Regions from separate parts of the Homo sapiens genome. Here region 2 is linked to region 1. The links come from fine-mapping of genetic effects on gene expression. A gene starts in region 1. The other region holds a variant in brackets. All regions are shown on one strand. Distances are from middle to middle.

Evidence for each region. PIP is the estimated chance that this variant, and not a neighbour inherited with it, causes the effect.
Region 2: its variant is fine-mapped to the expression of DKC1 in whole blood (TOPMed, PIP 0.91).

Annotation. Positions count from the first base shown.
Region 1 is chrX:154,761,490-154,764,399 of GRCh38, forward strand. It overlaps DKC1 (dyskerin pseudouridine synthase 1), which reads left to right and starts at 1,375. Exons shown (of 15, transcript NM_001363.5): 1 at 1,375-1,492. The coding sequence starts at 1,477. RefSeq lists enhancers at 996-1,055, 1,806-1,905 and a silencer at 1,156-1,455.
Region 2 is chrX:154,782,717-154,785,626 of GRCh38, forward strand. It overlaps MPP1 (MAGUK p55 scaffold protein 1), which reads right to left. Exons shown (of 12, transcript NM_002436.4): 7 at 2,335-2,441; 8 at 1,312-1,392; 9 at 711-791. Among named protein-coding and RNA genes, the nearest start is that of SNORA56, 9.2 kb to the left of the region's middle. The variant C/T (reference allele first, on the strand shown) is at 1,518.

The sequences.
Region 1 (2,910 bases):
AATCAGTTCCCAGGGACTCAATTATGATAATGTGCCAGAGGCTTCCTTTGTTCTTTCCTTCCATTATCACCCTCAGTCCTTGAGTCAGGAAGCCCCTCTGGGAATTTATCCAGCTACCAATTGTGTTTATTACAAGTATGGATTCAAGAACCGGGGAAAGAGCCACAGGGTGGCTGATAGTGAAAGGGACGTGGGCTGACTCCACTTCTGACCATTGGACCAAGTGGCATTCTACTTCCCCAGTGATTCACACGGGCTAGTGCAAGCCCCTGGTAAATGGCCACGGGTCCCACGAGAAGGGAGGAGGCAGGCTGAAAGTACACACTTGTAGCGTTACATGTGCCTGGCCTCACCTTTACAGGCTCACCTCACGGGCTCTGGCCTGTGGACTGACTAGATCTGGGAATTAGATGAGGCACCATGATTTTCCATTGTGGTGATTCAAGGCAGAATGCCTTTAGCCAGACCTAGAGTTACCGGGGTTATACAGATCATGATGGCTTACTACAGGACACTGTGATCAATTAGACACCACCAAAGATCCCTGGGGAGAAATCAGTTTGGTTCCAGCTTCCAGCCCTGCTGCCTATCATGATACCCAGGCTCATCCTGTTTCTATGAGATTTAGTGCCAGTGCTTTGTCTCTGCTGTTTGGCGTGAAGCCCGGTCGTAGAGTTCAAATTGAGGTGTGCTGTGAGCATAAACGCACACACCGGAAAGTCTTTGCGGGGACAAAAAAAAAAAACCAATGTAAAATACCCCATTCATACTGTTGTGTTTTGCCTATATGTGGAAATGATAATATTTCGGATACGCTGGGTTAAAAAAATTCATTATAAATCATTTTCACCTTTTTCTTTTTACTCTTCTTTCATGTTGCTGCTGGAAAATTTAAAAGTCAACATGTGGCACGCACACTACTCCTATTGGCCATCTGCTCTAGCTGGATGGGAACTGCAAGCAGCAAAGGCCTTTCAACCTCTCCGAGCTTCAACATGTTCACTTATGCATCAGGACTGATCCAACAGCAACCTGAAAGGGTCGGTGTGAGAAAGCAAAGAAAGAGGTACTGTTTACGGAGCGTTCAGCCGTGAGCCCAGGCGCAGGCGCGGAGCTAAACCCGGAGGTGAAGCAACTACAGCTGGGGCCACGCCCACAGACTCCGGGCTGTCGGGGCGGGCGGCACTCGCGCTTCCAGCCTGGGCCAACCAGGCTGCTTGAGGCTCGAAGCGCATGCGCGGTCTCGCCCTCCGTACTGGCCGAGCCAGCAAATCGCATTGCGCAGACGACCAGCGGGCGCCTCGGATTCCGCCCCCGGGATGGCCCCGCCTCCTCCCGCCCCGCGGCAAGGCACGCACAGGGCAGTGCGCGGGTGGGTGGGTCCTAGCAGCGCGGCCTGACGGGACCAAGGCGGCGGGAGTCTGCGGTCGTTCCCTCGGCTGTGGACCGGGCGGCACGCACGCGGTGCAGGGTAACATGGCGGATGCGGAAGGTAAGGGCTGCAGGCTTCCGGGCCGTGCTAACTCCGGGCGACTCGGGGAACGGGGGTGGGGGGATGGTATCGGGGCCCGCGCACGCCTCCCTCTGGTTCCCGCCGGCGTGTCGGCCTCTTCACCGCCCGGCCTTAAGCCGGCCTTGTCTCTCGGCCCTGGCTCCGTGGCAAGGGCGCGAGAGTGGGAGCCCCTCGCGGTGACTTGGCATGATGGGGCTCGGCCCTCTCACCTCCCTGGGGTCCGGGTCGCCGTCGAAAGACATCTGCCGTGCTGCCCACCCCGCGGTGGCGTGGGACGTGGCAGTGTCTGTGCTGCTGCCAGCCCGGACGCCGCCGTTACAGCTCCATGCGACTAGGGGAGCAAGGGTAGTGGAAACGGGCCGAGAAGAAAAGGAGCGGAGGGACCCCGGAGCAGGGATAGAGCTCCGAGTTGCAAGAAAGTTCTAGAGGCCACAAGCCCGCGGGGACAGTCGAGTGGTCGCTTATGGAACTTTCCGGCCCCCTGCGTGAGCGCTTCTGTGGGATGTTTAAGCTCTGCCATAGCCACGTGGTGAACCGGAAGGGAAGCCGACACGTGCAGTAGCCTACAGTCAGTTACCCAGCCATGGGACCCATACATTTGGCCTTACACACCTTGTTTTCTCGCTTACCTACGGATATACGTTCTAAGAAATGGGTCGTTAGGCGATTTCATCATTGTGTGAACATCAGAGGGCTCTTACACAAACCTAGGTGGCATAGGCTACTACACACCTAGGCTGTATATGGTGTAGCGTATGGCTCCTAGGCTTCAAACCTGGACAGCATGGTATTGTGCGGAATGCTGTAGGCAGTTGGGACACAGCGTCGAGAGTTTGTGTACTTAAACATGTCTAAGCAGAAAAAGGACAGTAAAAATATAGCACAGGGCCGGGCGCGGTGGCTCAGGCCTGTGATCCCAGCCCAGGCTGGCGGATCACCTGCGGTCAGGAGTTCAAGACCAGCCTGGCCAACATGGTGAAACCCCGTCTCTACTAAAAATACAAAAAATTTAGGTGGGCGTGGTGGTATACGCCTGTAATCCCAGCTACTCGGGAGGCTGAGGCAGGAGAATTGCTTGAACCTGGAGAAGGAGGTTGCAGTGAGCCGAGTTTCTGCCACTGCACTCCAGCCTGGGGAAAGAGTGTGACCGTCTCAAAAAAAAAAAATTATATATATATATAAATATGTGTGTGTATATATGTATATTATATATGTATGTATTATATGTATGTATATTATATATATATAGTACACAAGGTTATAAGTGGTGCACCCGTAGAGGAGGGCACTTACCATGAATGGAGCTTGCTGAGCTGGAAGTTGCCCTGGTTGAGTCGGTGACTGAATGTGAAGGCCTCAGACATTACACTACTGGAGACTTTATAATCTGTACACCT
Region 2 (2,910 bases), 21 kb after region 1:
GCAGCTGGTCGTTGACTAACATGGTTTAGTTCAACTTCATTTCATTGTATTGTTGATGAGTAAAAAAACTGGTTCTTGTTATATGTCATTTCACTTAAAGTCACAGTCTTCGAAGAGCCTATTGACAATATTAAGTGAGGAATCACCGTATTTCTTTCTGGGAACATACACAACTATACCATGCAGCATCACTTCTGGGAATGGAAGAGTTATCAAATTCTCCACCTGATCACTGGCGCTACTCTTCTCCATATCTAGGACTGCTGTTGAGATCGTTTGGGCCTTTCCTAGGCACTGCTTTGATTTAGAAGACATTCCATGAAAATGAGAGGCAGCCTGAACATCAAGAGTGGGATAGTTCTCAAAGAGAATTAGGCAAATTGCAGAGGAACATGAGAAAATGTTTAAAAAGTAAAATGACAAAGTTATATGTATAAACTTTAATACTTAGTAATTTTTAAGGCAGTATCAAAATGTTTACTATAGCTTCTGTTATGTAGACAAACAGCACGAATAACAATAAGAAAACAGTTATTCTGTTAGGTGGAGGAATTGTGGGCACAAATTTTTATCTTTCCATATTTTGTTTAGTTTTAATAATCATTTAAAATAAAATAATTTAAAAAATAATAAAATAACACTATGGTATTTCAGATGGCGAGTGGTACCAGCCTGTCACCTCCCCTCCAAGGTGCCTAAGAGCTACTTACATGGGACAGGGTACACAAACTTCTCCGGATTCTGGCTGAGCAGGGCATTCTTAATGTGGCTGCGACCCACCCCACTGGCTCCTGTGTAGAGAGAGAAGAACATCTTTTGGAAAGGGGGGAGAGGAGCGAGGATAAGATACGGATTTTCCTCTCTCGGCACTCAAAACTGCCAACAGGTGAACATGAGTTGGGGTTGCATCTGGGCTGGGGTCAACTCTAAAGACAGGAAGGTGAGCAGTCCGCCAGAGGCAAAGCCTACATACCTGGGTTTGAAGCAAGGACTTACTCTGTTTCAGGTCAGAGTCACTGCTTGGGGGAAGGGAGATTTACAAAGCGTATCACTGCCAGCAGACAGCATGAAACCTAACCAAAAATAATTCGTTGCTAAATAGTAGAGAAACTTGTAAGGTTTAGTTTCATTTGTGAGGTGGACCCAGGTGGGGTGCACGTGAGGATTCAGAAAATTCCTTACACCTGCTCTATATGGAGAACCCAAGAGACCTCAGTTCTTTTCTTCCTCACTGCCTTTTTTGGGGGTGGGCACGTGATGCAGGCAGGAAAACAAAGACAGAAATGTGCAAATGGGGCAATGAGAAGATACCGATCAGCACCAGGGTCTTCCTCTTGAATGCAGGGAGCCGAACGACTTCCTCGTAGGAAACAACATCCAACTGATCAAAAACTAGAGACAAAGAAAACCAAGCAGTGTTCATTTCCAGAGCTAGGGAGAACAGTGGTCCACACTCTGAAATGGGAAACAGCCTCGCGACATCTCAACAAGCAGGGAGGAAGTGACTAGAGATGAGA[C/T]GAGGGAGGTTGGTGTGGAGGAAGGACTTTGGACTGTATTTTTAGTGTGGTGAGGGAATTTTGAGCAAGGGAGTTTATCTAACTTTTGCACCCTCTCTTCCTCCTTGCCCTATCTCTCTGAGCCAACTTTTCTTGTCTCCTGTCCTCATCTCTTCTCCATAGTTTCAGTATCAGATGTTCCCTTGGCACTTAGAGCTGAAGAATGCCAATGCTATCTCGGTTCTGCCTGAATGTCCCTTATCTTAGAAGATGGTGGTGCTATTGACCCAGCTGCTCAAGATAGAGACCTGGTGTCATCCTGACTCTCCACCCCCTTACCTGCCTACAACCCAAGACTGCCACGATCATTCCCTGGCTGGTGGTGTGCACGTGACGTCTCAGAAAAGAGAAATGCAGATGGAAAGCTGACCGTGCGAATTCTCTGCTCAAAACCCTTCACCAGCTCCACAGTCTATAGTGCAAAATTTAAAACGCTAGGGAGGGTGCACGAAGCTCCCTATGACCTGGCCCTGGCCTCTCCCTCTGGCCTGTGTTCTTGCCTCACTTCCCCTCTCCCACCACATCTACTTCTGTGTGAGGGGTGGGGTGATGAGCAGGTGTGGGCTCACCACTAGTCCTCCTTTACATCCACTGGCCTGACTGCAGCAAGCTTGTGAAGATGGATTCAATAAAAAGAAACCAGAAGAAATGACATGCTTTCTGTAGAATGCGCCTTCTGCTGCGCACTGCACCACCTCCCCTTTTCTGCTGGTTACAGAGACTGGGAAACACGTGAATGCTGCCAGGAACCTGGGGCAAGAAGGCTCAGAAAGCTTACTCGAGCTGTGCTTGGCCAGATATTTGTCTTTGTACTTCTTCTTCTTCCCAAAGGGACTGCAGCTCGGGGCTTCGCTAGGAGCTGACTGAGCCATACTTGCCACTCGCCTGGTAGGAAAAGACAATCAAGGGGTCAGCTTTCCTCCCCCTCCCCTCATACCCCCCCCAGCCACTCAGTCTCTAATGGCACCCCCTTCACTCTCTGAGTGTCCATTACAGTGGGAGATAATGTGTGCAAAGCACCCCATACACTGTTTGGTGCATCTTGCACTGTGCCCTGCCCTCAGTCAGGGACCTGGCTCCTTGAGTCTGTGTCATCTAGTACCTGTCAGCACATTCTGGACACAACCCACAAACAACTCTCTTTCTTTGGTCTAGACCATAAAGGTCTCAAACCTTTATGACCCTACCTCACTCTAAGAAATACACTGTACATTGCAAGCCATTATTGCACATACATCTATAAACAAAACACATACACACACCCCACATATATATCTAAAACAACTGCTTCACAAAACAATAACTTGTATTACTACATGTAATATATTCTAATATTTCTATTCAGTGTCAACCC